4 linked regions of the Homo sapiens genome follow. The protein of the gene in region 2 interacts with the protein of the main gene of each other region in a biochemical or structural test. Each region holds a gene or a part of one and is shown on either strand. Other genes may lie near its edges. The genes, in order: KPNB1, EPAS1, KPNA5 and KPNA3.

What was found.
Region 1: the proteins of EPAS1 (region 2) and KPNB1 form a complex in vitro, tested with the Homo sapiens proteins (one study listed by BioGRID).
Region 3: the proteins of EPAS1 (region 2) and KPNA5 form a complex in vitro, tested with the Homo sapiens proteins (one study listed by BioGRID).
Region 4: the proteins of EPAS1 (region 2) and KPNA3 form a complex in vitro, tested with the Homo sapiens proteins (one study listed by BioGRID).

Annotation. Positions count from the first base shown.
Region 1 is NC_000017.11:47,652,874-47,657,191, reverse strand, and holds part of KPNB1 (importin subunit beta-1), read right to left. Parts: coding exon 4,316-4,318; intron 333-4,315; coding exon 132-332; intron 1-131.
Region 2 is NC_000002.12:46,376,977-46,381,294, reverse strand, and holds part of EPAS1 (endothelial PAS domain-containing protein 1), read right to left. Parts: intron 3,402-4,318; coding exon 3,208-3,401; intron 2,639-3,207; coding exon 2,528-2,638; intron 1,069-2,527; coding exon 578-1,068; intron 1-577.
Region 3 is NC_000006.12:116,725,833-116,730,150, reverse strand, and holds part of KPNA5 (importin subunit alpha-6), read right to left. Parts: coding exon 4,275-4,318; intron 3,657-4,274; coding exon 3,529-3,656; intron 589-3,528; coding exon 410-588; intron 1-409. UniProt on the Homo sapiens protein: Functions in nuclear protein import as an adapter protein for nuclear receptor KPNB1. Binds specifically and directly to substrates containing either a simple or bipartite NLS motif.
Region 4 is NC_000013.11:49,701,769-49,706,017, forward strand, and holds part of KPNA3 (importin subunit alpha-4), read right to left. Parts: intron 4,016-4,249; coding exon 3,853-4,015; intron 713-3,852; coding exon 618-712; intron 131-617; coding exon 32-130; 3' UTR 1-31. UniProt on the Homo sapiens protein: Functions in nuclear protein import as an adapter protein for nuclear receptor KPNB1. Binds specifically and directly to substrates containing either a simple or bipartite NLS motif.

The sequences.
Region 1 (4,318 bases), on a different chromosome or scaffold from region 2:
GTCTCACTTTCAAAACTGTGCAATTTAGCTTGGCTTTCTTCGTGATTCAATAAGGTAGTACTAATATCATTGATGTCACAGCTAGAGGCAATCAGAGGTATATAAACCAGATACATTAGGCAAGCACTTACTATATCTTGGCAAATATAACCGATGGCTTCCAATGTCGACTCCTTCATGTGCTCTGTGCTGTTGGGGTTTGTGACATTGGCCACCAGCTGAGGAATGAGTTCTGGCCACTGGTTTACTGGGATCTCTGCACAAGCAATACCAGCCACACACTGTGAGGCAGAACTAGGCCGGTAAGTTTCTGTACCCAATGTCTGCAAAACCTGCACCAAAAAAAAAGACAAAAGATACAAATTTCTAACACTATTTGACCACATTTTGCCCACCACCATACTTATATTAGTGTCTCTGAATTCTTTTTTTTCTTTCTTTCTTAAGACAGGGTCTCACTATGTTGCCCGGACTGGAGTGCAGTGGCACGATCACAGCTCACTGTAGCCTCAATCTCTACGGTGCAATCTATCCTCCCGCCTCAGGCTCCTGAGTAACTGAACTACAGGGGTGGATATGCTGACATGCCCAGCTATCTTTTGTTGAGACAGGGCATCACCATATTGCCCAGGCTCAAAAAAAAAAAAAGGAAAATACAAGGCCTCAGTCAGTTGTCCAGGGTGGAGTGTAGTAGCAAAACGATAGTGCAATGGCACAACGATACTGCAGCCTTGACCTCCCAGGCCTCCCTGAGTAGCTTAGACTACAGGCACATGCCATCACACCCAGCTAACTTTTTTGGGTTTTTAGTAGAGATGGGGGTCTCCCTATGTTGCCCAGGCTGGTCTCAAATTCCTGGCCTCCCAAAGTGCTAGGATTACAGGTGTGAGCCACTGTGCCCAGGCAGCTGTCTCAGAATTCTTTTTTTTTTTGAGACAAAGTCTCGCTCGTGTCCCCCAGGCTGGAGCATGATGGCGCGATCTCGGCTCACTGCAACCTCCGCCTTCTGGGTTCAAGCGATTCTCCTGCCTTAGCTCCCCCCAGCAAGTAGCTGGGATTACAGGTGCCTGCCACCATGCCCGGCTAGTTTTTGTATTTTTAGTAGAGATGGGGTTTCACCATGTTGGCCAGGACAGTCTCAAACTCCTGACCTCAGGTGATCCACCCACCTCGGCCTACCAAAGTACTGGGATGACAGGCGTGAGCCACTGTGCCTGGCCTCAGAATTCTTATCTATAATACGGAGAAGTAGGAAAGGCTGTCAGAAAAAACCAGCCTCAGTAGCAACATCAGCATAATCAACACTGCCCTAGAACCTAGAAACAAAACCAGTCATCCCACCTCACTTCAACCTTCAACACGAGGTGGGAAACCAGAAGTTACAAGAGGAGGTAGCAGTAAATGGCAAAGGAGAGAGATGGGGACAAAACTCATCTTCCAGGCTCATTGTTGCTGTTATAAGGAAAGGATGTTCACACCCTCGTTTTGTAGACAGACATGGACACTAGAATGAAGCTAGTTCTGGGGCATTCAGGTGGGTCTTATTCACAGTAGATCACTGTCTAATCTGATCCAAGGAGATCTTACTCATGAGACGTGGGCTGAAACAAAACTTTTTCCTTCTAATCACTAACAACTCAGCATTCGGGGTGACTTACATAGAAAGGCCTTGGTCAAGTAACAACATCACTAAATACAAAAACAACGTTGCTGATGTTAATAACACCTATGAACTAATCTTTATATAACTTCCAATCTGAAAGGATTTGTTCTGTTTGCCCAAGAATCAAAGAACTGTTCTATCACTGACAGATACCAAAATCTAGCCAGATGTCAAAACAAGATCCACTTGTCATTAAACATGTCTCGCTTGACATGGTAACCACGCCACCATTTATGTAAAGAGTAAAGGCACAGGTATGATAAAAGATGAAGCCACAATTGACCTAGAGCTAATTATTACCGTGATCAGCTAATTCAGTCAATGAACTCACTAAGAATCAGTAGTCCACTCAAAGGCAAACAGTTAACTGTTCTGGCATGAACACGGGACAAAGAATAGCTGCCAGATATTCAGGCCAGCTCTGCTGACTGGGTCGGATCACTTAGTATCCTGCTTTGCAGCTAGCACCAATAATGAACTCCCCCTTTCCTTCTTATACGGTATATCATCATCCCTGGCCCCCACCCCCATCAGCTCTACCCAACTACAAACAGTTCTGATTGATGTTAAATGAAAGGCTTTGCTCTCGAGGACTAGCAGAGCTAGAATGGACAAAAACGGTATGTCAAAGACACGAGGGAATGAGGGGGAAAAACAAGGTGAATTGTCCAAAATATCAGGGGCTGAATGGGTATTATTAACCCAAGTCCAGGGTGCCTTCACACCACACTACATAGTCTCCTAGTACATATGTGGAGTGCACTGAATCCCATTCTACCTTTACCTTTTTCCTTTAGATTGCTTTCTGAAGACTCCATATTACTTGAGGTGATTTAGAAACTACGGATGTCCACCTCCTGAGTACTAAAAGTTTTCTGTTTAAACTAGAGGTAACCTTAATAGTAATATTCAATTATCAGAAAAGAGAAACTAGCTCCCAATTGTGCCCCAATATCCAGATTTCAAAAAAGATCACCAACAGTGAAACTTAGTATTAGTTATCGTTGTGCTATGAAAGGGAAAAAGGCCAAGGTACTGTTAGCTTTTTTCTCATGCCCGAGGGCTTAACCATGCCTATACAAATTATCTAATTTTTTTTTTTTTTTTTTTTTTAAGAAATGGAGTGTCACTCTGTCACCCAGGCTGGAGTGCAATGCGCAATCTTGGCTCACCACAATCTCCGCCTCCCAGGTTCAAGCAATTCTCCTGCCTAAGCCTCCAGAGTAGCTGAGACTACAGGTATCCACCGCCACAGCCAGCTAATTTTTGTATTTTTAGTAGAGACAGGGTTTCGCCATGTTGGCCAGGCTGGTCTCGAACTCCTGACCTCAGGTGATCCACCCACCTCGGCCTCTCAAAGTGCTGGGATGACAGGCATGAGCCACTGCGCCCAGCCATTATTGTCTAATTTTTTTTTAAAGGGTTGGTGTTAAGAGTGATGTGCCAAAAAATAAGCCAATTACAATTCCAATTACATCTTATCCCATTTACTAGTGTGTAAATTAAGGAAGATGAGAAACTGAATGGGCACTATCAGTATCGAGATTTCCAGTGATAGAATATACTTCCATTTATGTCACTTAGCTGAGGGAGAAGGAATTAAAATGTTGTTATTACACAAGCAGAACCAACATGAATAGAAACAGCTCTACATGCTCCAAAACGATTTGAAACCAAGTTGGATTTAATAACCCGGCTCCTTATCATGGGTATGCAAGATTGGTGACAGAAGGAGGTACACAACCAGATACAGAAGTTACTGCCTTACAGGGCACTACTTTACCTAATGCTGATATCTAGAACCAGGAAATAGCAAGTATGATGTGCATAACCATGTCCTGCACAAGTACATATGTAGGAATTCCCCACTAGTTTCCACTCAAATACCAAGGACAAAATGATGACTGCACAGATATTTAACTCACTCCTCTTTGTGCCTTACCCATGTAAGACAGATCACTAAAGAACTTAATTTAAAAACAACAACAGCCAGGCGAGGTGGCTCACTCCTGTAATCCCAGCACTTTGGGAAGCCAAGGCAGGCAGATCACCTGAGGTCAGGAGTTCAAGACCAGCCTGGCCAACATGGTGAAACCCCGTCTCTACTTCAAGTACAAAAATTAGCTGGGCATGGTGGTGGGTGCCTGTAATCCCAGCTACTTGGGAGGCGGAGGCTGCAGTGAGCCGAGATCATGCCATTGCACTCCAGCCTGGGCAACAGAGCAAGACTGTCTCCAAAAAAAAAAAAAAAAAAAAATTCCCTGAGCTGTACTCCAGAAGTACCGAATCGGAATTTCTGGAGAGCTTGGAAATACCTATTAACAAATTCCCTAATTTTTATACAAATGTAGCACCAATTTGTACACTACTCCCATTTGCCAAACAGATTTTACCAATTATGGCACGTAATTAAAGTTTCCCAAACTGCTGCAGCCTACCTCAGTCATCTAAAAAGAATTCCAATCCATCAATGGGAATGGACAAGCTGTGTTGAGAAAGATTTAAGACAAAGACAATTTTTATCTTTAGGTAAAGTTGAGGTCCCAGAAACCTATCACACTGTTAGCTCTATCCCATGCAAATAGCAAAAGATCTGAGAAAGCGATTTCTTGTTCTCTGGGCAATATAACCAAACAGATAAGCGTTACTCACATA
Region 2 (4,318 bases):
CACTGAAAACTAGTTTGGCTGCTCTATAAAGGGCAAGTACCAGCGGCCCCTGGGAGTGGCAGGTCATGTACCAACCCCTGTGCCTTAGCCCAGTGAGCTCGCAGCTGGTGAAATGAGCATGCTGGGGAGATGGGAAGGCATTTCTGGAGCCTAGGCACAGCTGGGAGAGGCTGCAGTGGCGAGGACCCGGGGGCAGCCAAAAGGCAAGGGGAGGCAGGGGTATCTTTTTGCTGTTTTCAACCAGGGAAAATCATCACTCAATTTTCTGTGTGGCTCAGATGATGAACCGAGATACGAAAGGCACTCTGGTGGTGGTCCGAAGGGAGACACTGAGGTACAGGGCTCTCAACAAGCCACTTCTTTGCCTGCCCTCAGTGGCAGCCCAGATAAAAACCCATCCTACACTAGGCCTCACATGGCTTGAGGTGATTCCCCAAAGTCTGAGCTCAGAGAAGGGCTAAATGGGGTATCAGATGGCTGGGGAGAGGGGCAGGGGCCTCCCTGGGGGTCCAGCTATCTTACTAGTGGGTGCCTCTCGGTTCGGCCCTGCTGGTACAGCTGAGTATCTGCCACTTACCTTGTCTTGAAGGTGGAGACATGGGGTGGAGAGACAGGGGGCCCCAACGGCGCTGCTCCCAAGAACTCTGTGCGCTGATCCCCGACGGCCCACTTTGTGGGCCCAAAATGTAATGGTGGATCTGGGGGCCACTGGGTATTGGATCTGCCCCCCATGGAAGAGAGAGGGGTGCTGGCCTGGCCACAGCACGGTGGCAGGGATGCTTTGCTTCCGGCATCAAAGAAGATGGAGGACATGGGCCGGTGCTCGGGCTCTGTCTTCTTGCTCTCCAGCTGCTGCTGAAACTTGTCCAGGAGGAAGGGACTGTGCGGGGCTACAGGGGCCAGTGGCTGGAAGATGTTTGTCATGGCACTGAAGCAGTGCTGGGGGGTGGACTGTGGGTTCTCCGCCAAGAGCCGCTCCTCGGGGCAGATGGGGCTTAGCTGGAAGTCTTCCCCGTCCATGGGGATATAGGGTGCCAGTGTCTCCAAGTCCAGCTCATTGAAATCCGTCTGAGGGGAGACAGCACCGGCAAAGAGGCAAGGGGGTTGGTACGACCTCACAAACACTATTCCAACTCAGCTCCTGCAGAGCCATTCATCTCAAGCACTGTTTCACAGTGCTGCTCAAACGCCTCCACTGGCTCCCGAGGGCCTATCAGGAAAACCTCAGACTTGGCTGTGTCATGTACACGACCTTGTATCATGTACCAGCCTTCCCCCATGTTTATCCCCTCTTCACCCTGCACATTGAGAAATGTTCTCCTCTCCCCATCCCACCTGTCCGGAGCCCGCCTTCTCTCTTGAAGCCGAGGCAGCCCCTCTTCCACAGAGTCAGCCCTGCCTACTCCAGCCTGTGGTGGTTATCCTTGTCCTACAATGCTTAGGCCTGTGGTGCACACTGTGGCTTTTTTTTGTCCTCTTCTCCCTCCTGTAAGCTGGCACGGGCCTAAGCAAGCAGTAAGTGCCCAGGTCCATCTGTGGACTCTCGCAGAGTAACAGCCTAACAGCCAGACCCCAGGGACAGAGACTTTGGTTCCAATCAGCAGATACTCAGATCATCCCTTAGGGTGGCAGTATCATGACGGACGCATGATACAAGCAGGGGAATACAAGCAGATGCGGAAAACAGTTTCTAACTTCAGAGACTGACACCCTCAGTGGGTGTCAGCTGACTAATGACTGCAATACTAAGCAATCTTTAAGGAGCAGAAGCAGATAGCTGTGATTAAGTGCCACATGATATATACTACAGGAGTGCTGAGGAGGGAGGGTGATAGAAAAGCTAAAATTGGGCATGTTTTGCAGAGTAGCTGGGATTTGTGCCAAGTAGGATCAAGAAACAAACTAAGTGGCAAGGCAGAAATCTGGTTGAACTCAAGACTAAGACAAATGGGGGATTAATGGTTTTCCCTGGGGTTTTGTAAAACACGTACCCCTCCCTCTACCTTATCCTTGTTTACATAGTTTTTGCAAGAACATTGGCCTTATGTAATAAATGTGTTCCTGAAAAGTTTTATGTAAATGAAAAATTGTCAAACAGATGTTATTTATTTTAAAGTGCATTTCATATAAAAATGATTATTTTTTTAAAATCACAAGATGAATGTGTTTATAAAGGGATTAATTGTCCCCTATGTTTATACATGTTTTATACATCTGGCTATGCTTGTTAAATGTAGGGCCTGTTTAAAGAAAGGTGCAGTGGTATCATTTCGGTTTTCATGTGTGCTAAGAAAGCTATCTAAGTAGGAGACACATATGCTGGAAGAGCTGGATTTGACAGTGGGAGGAGGGGGTGACCACAGGCTCCATTACCCTGTACCCCTACCTCTTTAGGGGACCTGGGCCTTGGCCAAACGTCTCCACTGCTCTTTACAACAAAGGGATGAGGCTACAAGAATGGATGTGAGCCTTTGCTGTCCACCAGACAGCAGGCACACACCCTAGCCTGATCTCCACAGCCATCTACCTGGGTACTGCATTGGTCCTTGGCCTCTGTGTCCATGGCGAAGAGCTTCTCAATCACTTCAATCTTCAGGTCGTTATCCAAAGATGTGTAATAGTCTTCAGGGCTATTGGGCTAGGGGCCAGGAAGGAGGGGGACAGAGTCAAAGATATGGCACTGGTCTCCCCAGAAGTCCAGCATGGAAGAAGAAATACCTTCCTGGACCCAAAGGTTCAATTCCATTCCACCACACAACTATTTGTAGAGGGGCTGCTAATTAACAAGCTGTATGAATTAGGTCAATTCATCAACCTCTCTAAATTCCAGTCTCCTCATCATAAAATGAGGCTACTGTCGCTTCACAGGTTGTCCTGTCTTGAGGACCAAACAGGATACAGGCTGTGGCCAGCAGGGCTGTGCAAACTGTGCAGCTCTGTGCCACATACGGGATGTTACTGCCCTGTATGGGGACTGAGCTGGGGGCTCAAAGCCCTTCAAGGAGCTTATTTCAATGGAGTTGGGGGATGAACACTAAAAGGAAGAAAACAGCTCTGATACCTGGTAGGTAAGTGTCACGGCCACTCTAGGGGGCTCTGTGATAACCTGAGAAGGACAGTACCTGTCCCAAATGTCCCTTCAGCCATCTGGCAGCAGTCATACATACGGAGCCCTCTCTGTGTCCTCGCCATAAGAGGGCTGCTCACCGTGGAGCAGCTGCTGCTGCTGCTGGTGGCACTGGGGGTGGTGCTGCCCGGGGCAGCTGCCTGGGGCACGGTGAAGGCAGGCAGGCTCCCAGCCTCGCTCTGGGTGCTGTGGCTCCTCAACTCCGTGGCCCATGGCTGGCTCGGGGGCAGGATGGCCTTGCCATAGGCTGAGGACTCCTCGAAGTTCTGATTCCCTGTGGAGACAAGGGCCTGGGAGGTGAACACCCACAACCATCGGGCTCACCCCAAGGCAGAGGAGGCCCAAAAACCGCAGAGAAGGCCCTAAGAGGGTCTGGAAGGCATGCCTGGGGCTAGGCCCCCCCAACACCCTGGGGCTCAGCTGGAACACATGGGTCTTTGACTCTGGCTATGAGTCAACGTAGAGACTCCCTTTAAACGGAACAGTCTCCTGGGACATTTAATTTTCAGAGACTAAATATATTAGGAGCCACTCTTCCCTGAGGAACAGATCCGGAAGGGTAGACAAGGAAGGTATGAGAGGGAGAGGAGAATTGGGCTATTGAGCTATTTGCCTCAGTACTGCCACAAAACAAGCCGCGAGACCTACTGGCCAAGGGCCCGCTGCGTTTCAGATTCTCTTTAGCTGCAATCCTCACGTGGCCGCTGTAGAACCCATCTAAAAGGGGCTGACACAGTCCAGGGTGAGCACCACTCTTCCGGCAGCCACAGCAAGGCCAGGAGAGGGTGGCAGCGGGTTGCGAACTGGGGAGCATGGGGCTTCAAGGGTGTTTCCAGGATTGGAGCAGCCGAGGGCTGAAAACCCTGCCGGGGTCCCCAGTGACTTACATCCCCAGGGACAGGCAGACACTTTAATGAAGTCGTGGGTTTGAGGGCTTAATCCCAGGCCTCAATATGTTCTCTGTGTTTTTGGAATGATCCTTCCCAACATTACTCCAACTTGGCCCTCTGCCTGAACAAGCCATCTGTCCTTCCAGACCCTGGTAGGAATCTGCCCCTTCTCTTTGACAGTGTCCAAGTGGCCTCGGAGCAGATCCCTCACCTCTCCCCTCCCTCTCATCTCAGACTCTCACCACCCATGGTGGAGAATCGACCCTCAGGGGGGTGTCCTCTCTTAACCCCTCCTCGTACA
Region 3 (4,318 bases), on a different chromosome or scaffold from region 2:
CACACCACCGCACTCCAGCCTGGGAGACGGAGTAAAACTGTGTCTCAAAAAAAAAAAAAAAAAAAATTACATATTTTTATATATATATAGTATATACATAACATTATGTGGCCATTATAATAAAAATTATGTAGAAATGTAAAATTTCTCCAAAATGTTAAAAAGTAGAACATAAAACTATACATACAATACAATTAAGTCAATGTAAAGTATTTGTGCATACAGACAATGTTAAAAAAAGGTAAATAATAAAAATAAATTGTTAGGGTAATAAAATTACGGGTGACATTTTAAAACTTAAAAAAATACATACTGCTTTTACAACAAAAAAATTGTAGGGAACTGGAAGGGGAAAGTATGACAGATATAAGAACTGACTATAATTGCAAATTTTTAACTGATTGCTTACCATATGCTTCTTCAATGAGAGCACAGTATGGATTAATGCCTATTCCATTCTGCTTAGATTCTTGTTCTCCAAGACGTAAAATATTTTCAAGTCCATTTAAAGCCACTTGGACTATTTTGGAGTCCATAACAGTCAAAAGATCACAAAGTGGTTTAATGCAGCCTAAAGCTACCAAATACCTTCAGATTAATATAAAAGAGAAGAAACAGGGAAAAAAAGATTTAAAAAGACTTAAGTACTGTTTGTAACAATGACACAAAAATATTTTTCATAGTGAAATGTTACATAAGCAATTAAGAAAAAGTATTCCTATACAAATGCAAACATTACACACATTTAAATTCTCACATAGGAAACTTAAAATTTTCTTTACTCACCTATTCTCTAATTTAACATAATTAGCAATAAATGGTCTTGCAAAGACTATAAAATACAGACACAAACTGGTACTTCGGCCTGTTTTTCATGGTGCTCATCTGAGCATTAAACGTAGGTTCGAAAGGTTGTTTTTTTTTTTTTTTAAAGGCAAGCCTACACACAGACACACACACACACACACACACACACACACACACACACACACGGAGGTCATATGGGGGTAGACAGAAATGGAAAGAAAGAAGAGACATCTAAATTAAACTTGAGAAAATTTCCCATAAAAACAATCACAGCTAATGTTCTGAAACATATACTGTGTTTCAGAAGGATAGAAGGCCTGTAGGAACAAAACAGGCTCTCTTGTGAATAATGTTCATAAATAATATTCACAAAAAAATTCTTTAATTTCTGAATGCATGTCCTTTTCTAGTTATTGGCTGGTTTTCTGTACTCTATAATGTAAATGAAGTAACTGATTTGTTCACTTGGCAAAAAGTCCATATTAAGTACAAAGGTTAAAAACATACTATGAAGCCAGGCTGTGTGCCTTCAAGTCCCAATTCCACCCCTTATTAGTTGTGTGACCTTGAGCAATTACTCTGTGTCTCAGTTTCCCCATCTTAAAAATGGGAATAATAATAGTACCAACTTCAGAGAGTAGTTGTAAGAACACAATAGACATTTAATAAAAGTTTCTGTCCCTCTTAAAAAAAAAAGATGTATATACCTTCACCAGAGCACTCATTTGCCCTATACTGTACTGTAATTGGTCAAAAATATCTGTTGAATGAATAACTGCCTCATAGTTAAGAGATTACAGGAGATAAAATACATGAAAGTACCAGACACATTGCTGGTGCTCAATAACTGAAATGACTTACTTAGCACAATAACTGGCAATAGTAGGCACTCAACTAGTGGTATGGATGCATAACTTAATCTGAGATCAAGAGGTCTTTTCCCAAATATGCAAACTTAATGAAATGATAAAAGTGGTTAGAAAAATAATTATCTCAGTTTGGATACTTAATCCATACTAATAAATTAAAGCAATAATATACAGAATAGATATAACCACAAAAATTAATTGAAAAAATACAACTATTTGCAGGTGAACAAACTTGCAGCCCAAATAAAATAAAAGTAACATCAACATTAAAAAAATACAAAATAGAACAAAGGAAGGGTCTTCATTTATTACTGCTTGTATCCATGACACAAAGTGGAAATACTGATGAAAGCAAAGAGATAGAATAGAAAATAAAAGGCAGAGACAGATGCTAGCAATATACAGCTATACAAATTTGAGAGAGCAAGATAATACTACAAATGAAGGCAATAAAAGACGACAATTTCACAATAGGTAGATTTCAAAATTATGTGATTTATAAAATAGCACTGTAGTTTGACTTGTTTTATAAATTGAAAAATAAATCAAATATGCATTAGAAAATATTTTCTAAGAAGTCTAGTTTCATGGAGGGATCCTCCGAACAAGACGATTCTGTAGAAGCTTTTAGTAGAGGTGTAAGTGAAACTTTGCTATGGGAGATAAAAAAGAGTGAAAGTACATGATAAAAGATTCAGGAATCAATACTGATAATAAAAATTATGATGATTACAAATAATAACAGTAGCTATTCTTAATTATCTATTAGTTATTAATAATATGTTTAGGCACTGTGCTGACACTTCAAAGACATAAATTTCACTTAACTATCAAGATACAGTCCCTCGGTTTCATCGGAGATTGGTTCCAAGACACCCTTCCTCTCAATACCAAAATCCACAGATGCTCAATTCCTTTATATAAAATGGCATAGTATTTGCATACAACCTATGCATATCTTTCCAAGTATTTGAAATTATCTTTAGATTACTTATAATACCTAAAACAATGTAATTGCTATGATGTTACTAATTGTTGTATTGTGTTTTTAAATTTGCATTATTTTGTAGTGTTGTACTGGCATTTTTTACTGTCTTTTTCTTTTTTAATATTTTTGACCTGCAGGTGGTTGAATCCACAGATGCAAAACCCAAGGATATGGAAGGCTGACTTACACTGCCATAACTATTCATTACTGGAACTCATTTTTTAAAATGAAGAAACTAGATTAGAGGGGTTAAATGACTTTGTCAAGACCACACAACTTTTACTGAAGGAGCAGGATTTGAAATCAGGCTGACTTAAAAGCCCATGCACCTATTATTTACATTGTCAGCAGAATAAATAAATTTAAAAAGCCTAGACTCAAAAAGCTAATATAAAAAAAAGGTAACTAGTATAGAAAAATAAAAGATACTATCCATAGGCAAGGCTAACAATCAATGAGGACCAGAACATCACCATATAAACAATGTCTATTTCAATTTTATTTAAAGTAAGTGGATATTCAAATTTATTAGCCATTTCTATATAATAAAGCTATATTTTTGTGATTAAAAAATATTTAATGCCCATGACAGTGTACTCTGCAAATTAACATAGACCGTTCCCGTTTGGATTTTTTAATCTCTGATTTTTCTTAAGCAGCCTATCAAGGAGAATGATGTTAATTACACGTTAAATGGGGAAAAAAAAATTGTGAATGAGTAACTGATATAATACATGCTGTCATTTCATATTATCAAACTGACTTAGAAATAATATTTTAGTTCCATCAGTAAATTAAAATATGTTTTATTTCAACTTTTGTCTCATTTACATGTAAAAAACAATTAAGAAGTTTATATCATACCTTATTTGCTCTGGAGTACCTCCTGATGTTGCATTAGTTATAGCCCAAGCTGCTTCTTTTCTGGTACGAAACTCTGCTTTCTGAAGAATCTCAATCAAAACAGGAAAAATATTTGCATCTATAACAGCCTGAGAGGGGGAAAAATATATAATCAGTACAAATACTGTTTCTAAAATATTACCAGTAAAAAAAATCTTGAAACTCAATGGCTTCAAAATGTCAAGGTTTTTGGAACCTTGACATTAAAATAAATTTTTAATTTCTATTCTGTCAGCAAACTTTTCAAATATTTTTCTTTTTACATAGGAAATTAGCTTTTTAAAGACTGGAGAATAGCAAAATATAAATTTTAGAGATGATAAAGCACAAGCCATGTGACTGATCAAAATGGATAAGTAATCACTGACACAAGAAGCTTGATAGAACCCTAATAAATCATTAAAAGCTTTGAGAGGAAGATTATTGCATAACTTATTTAAAACTAATGCAAAAAAATATCTTTCTAAAGACAAACCATTATGTGTCAGGCACTGTGCTAGACACACACACACACACACACACTTGATGTTCTTCACTAGAATACTACAAGTAAATGTTATTATTTTAGAGGAGGAAAGCCCATGTTCTTTAAAATACTTTTTCGGTATCTTTTTAAAAAGGAATCTTTTTTAGTAAAAGTGTTAACTTTTGTCCAAACTGGCTTCTTAGACCTTGCTGTTCTACTCTCAGATCTGAAGGGTAGTTACCTGAATCTGAGCTCTATTTCCAGCAGTGATGTTAGAAACAGTCC
Region 4 (4,249 bases), on a different chromosome or scaffold from region 2:
AATGTGGGAAAGATGCTGCACTCAACTGAATTTAAAAATTAAATTCTTTTGTTTGAAGGTTGGCTGTTGGATCAAAATTGTAGGTACCTCCTTGTGTTGCTTCAGGAATGAGGCAGGGATCTTCATCAATCTGTAAAAAACAAGAAAAAAATCCTTATTAGGTTATGATACTATACATTATGATGTAAGTGGAATTGACTTTTTACCTCTTAGCAAATAATTCTATGTGAATGCTTTAACCAACTAAAAATATTCGAGTAAATCAATAATTTTATTAAGAAATTTAACAATTTAAAATTTAACACGTTTCGAAACTGCATTGTTAAGTTTCTGTATCTGGGACCTAGATTTATTTAACCTATCTGAACATATATCACTTATATAATTACTATTTCTTCCTAGTTAATAGATTAGAAATGAAACAAGAACTGTTTTTACAACTTTACCTTATAATGAAGTTTCAAAGTATTTAAGAGAAAGTGACTGATGGAATGTCTAATAGAAATACAGTACAAACTTATGTCATCCTAATAATAAAAGGAAAACTCTTAGTAAATTTACATCATGTATAGGTTTTCATTTACATGAAGATACACGCTATTTTAATATCTACTTACATCATCACCAGAGAAATACTGATCTATGATTTCAAATGCTAATTTATATATGTCTTCATTTTCATGTTGCTGTAAAACTTCAATTTTCTCCAAACCTGGTAAAAATAAAATAATCAAAATAACTGGTTAATTGATAAGGAGATACTAATCAAAACCACACTCATTTTAATCATGGAGAAATCCTAAGGAACTCAGAACACACTGCTCCCCCATCTAAGATAGTGGTTTGTCTAAAAAACAGACAAAACACGGGGCTGCTTCTAGTTGGAGGACCAGAATCCCACTAATTTTTTCCTTCTTAGAAGCCCTTGAGGTACCCGGATCCCTGAGGCAGACAGTCTAAAAAAACACCCAAACAATCCATTTGACAGAGGGAAGCTGTGGCATAAATATGTAAAGAGACTTATTTCAAGTTATATGGCAAGTTTGTGACAGTACTAGAACCAACTCCCCCACAGTGCTTTAATATAAATTTACTAATCTATTTTTTTTTTGAGACGGAGTCTCGCTCTGTCACCCAGGCTGGAGTGCAGAGTGCAGAGGTGTGATCTCGGCTCACTGCAAGCTCCGCCTCCTGGGTTCATGCCATTCTCCCGCCTAAGCCTCCCAAGTAGCTGGGACTACAGGCGCCCGCCACCACACCCGGCTAAGTTTTTCTATTTTTAGCAGAGACGGGGTTTCACTATGTTAGCCAGGATGATCTTGATCTCCTGACCTCGTGATCTGCCCACCTCGGCCTCCCAAAGTGCTGGGATTACAGGCGTGAGCCACTGCGCCTGGGCATTTTTTCTTTCTTTCTTTTTTTTTTTTTTTTTTGAGACGGAGTCTCACTCTGTAGCCAGGGCTGGAGTGCAGTGGCACGTCTCGGCTCACTGCAACCTCCACCTCCTGGGTTCAAGTGTCTCCTGCCTCAGCCTCCCAAGTAGCTGGGATTACAGGTGCCCACCACTATGCCCAGCTAATTTTTTGTGTTTTTAGTAGAGACGGGGTTTCACCATGTTGGCCAGGCTGGTCTCGAACTCCTGACCTCGTGATTCGCCCGCCTTGGCCTCCCAAAGTGCTGGGATTACAGGAGTGAGCCACTGCACCCGGCCAATCTTATTAATCTTACTGCCTCATAAAGTAATTTGTATCTTTCTCTTTGTTTTCCAAATGTTATTACCTTTATATAACCACAAAATGAGTTTTTAGAACCTTATAATTGGTATAAAAGATATAAAGATTTAAATTTTGAAAAACTTTCTTTAAAAAATGAATAGAGGTCTTATGTCCTATAGCCACAATGAACCTGGGAGAAAATATTTCCAGAACAGATATCATAGAATGCCTTCATTTATATTTCCAATATATTTACTCCACACATCATATACATGTTTATCAATTTCACACCTTAATATTCTTCCTTGAAATGTCTTTTTGAAGGTTATTTTAAAATAGTTGCAATTTTTTCTTATATACTAATAAACCAAAAGAATGGGGGAAATCGTTGCCAAAGTGCTTTATACAATTATAAAATATTAATATGTATCCTATTACTCCTATAGACAAAAGTAACTATATTGATAAAAAGCTGAAGAGTAGTAATTCTCTAAGTTGCTCAAACTTACTGTGTTATGAACCTGACTACAATTTTTAATTATCTTAATAGTAAGAAGATCTGGATTTTAACTTTGCTTCTATCACAACCTACTTCTGTCACCTTGGACAAGACTCCTTAAAATCTGTGGGATAATTTCTTCTCAAGAAACCCTCCCGGCTGGGTGCAGTGGCTCACGCCTGTAATCCCAGCACTTTGGGAAGCCGAGGCGGGCAGATCACCCGAGGTTGGGAGTTTAAGACCAGCCTGACCAACACGGAGAAACCCTGCCTCTACTAAAAATACAAAAATTTAGCCGGGCGTGGTGGTGCATGCCTATAATCCCAGCTACTAGGGAGGCTGAGGTAGGAGAATTGCTTAAACCCGGGAGACGGAGGTTGCGGTGAGCCATTACACTCCAGCCTGGGCAACAAGAGCGAAACTCTGTCTCAAAAAAAAAATAAATAAATAAAAAATAAATAAATAAATAAATAAATAAATAAATAAATAAATAAATAAATAGAAAGAAAGAAATCCTCCCAGTCTGAATATTCTACGGTACTACTGCATTTGTTTTCTCTTAAAATAAATAAATAAATAAACAATAGAATATTCATATAAAGTAGTCAATGAAATGTAAAATCTAAAACATGACATTATGATAAACTAATTTAAGGTTTAAACATGTTAGTACATATTGAACATGTACATTTAAAAACAGAATTTTAACATATGTTTCACATGTCATTAAAGAATAATACAGTATGTCAAATCACAATTATTTCTCATTAAAATTTCAAAGTAACTGCCACAGTAATAACTTCAGGATGTAGTTGTGGAAATCCTAAGAATCATTACAAGATTGAAACAAAATATCTAGGTGACTCAGAAGTCAGTAACCTTTTCCAACTATATGAAATAATATTTCCTAAAGTGGGGTCCACAGAATTACATGGTAATAACACACAAAAAAAGTGTTTCATTGTTAAGAAGTTTAAGAAATGCTGGATTAAATAAAGCTTTAAAATTTATGTAGTGTTGTAAGGGCTCTTAAATTTGCTGTCATGCACTGTGACTTCAAGAGAAGTATTAGTGTTTCCTAAAATGCAATGTCAGGCCAGGCGCAGTGGCTCATGCCTGTAATCCCAGCACTTTGGGACGCTGAGGCAGGTGGATCACTTGAGGTCAGGAGTTCGAGACCAGCCTGGCCAACATGGTGAAACCTCGTCTCTATTAAAAACACAAAAATCCACTGGGTGTGGTGGTGTGCGCCTGTAATCCCGGCTACCTGGGAGGCTGAGGTGTGAGAATTGCTTGAACTCGGGAGGCAGAGGTTGCAATGAGCTGAGATTGTGCCACTGCACTCCAGCCTGGGCGACAGAGCAAGATTCTGTCTCCAAAAAAAAAAAAAAAAGCTATGTTGTCAATCTCTAGAAGGCTATACAGTGACTTTCACAACCTGATTTTGCAAAGTATGGACTACTGTCTTCTGGAAAATCCTCTTGGAATGCAAATATAGTGAATAAAGAAAAGCAACATACTGTGATCATTTAAAAACAACGTATCCTAGTAATTTTCTGTCTAGTAAGTTGACTTTAAAGAACTTATGTTTCAGAGTTCCAGTGCTCAAATACTCTTCTTCCATCAATCCACTCTTACCTCCACATTCCTCTATTATTTCAGCTATTGTGCTTGCTTCATCACCGGCCATTATCAGAATGTTTTTTAGACCATCTAGAACCACCTGAACCACTTGAGAATCTTTCACTGACAGTAAATTACAGAACGGTGGTATTACATTCTGCTGTACAAGGTACTCAACCTAGACAACAAAAGAGAAGAAATATTTTTATTTATATAATTATCTATTTCCCAGTAGGGTGTCGTGCTACATGGAAGGCTGAGGCAGGAGGCTATCTTGAGCCCAGGAGTTGGAGGCTGTAGTGCGTTATGGTCATGCCTGTGAATAGCAACTGCACTCTAGCCTGGGCAACATAGTGAGACTCCATCTCTTAAAATAATAATAATTATCTTTTCCCCAAAAAGAACACAATAC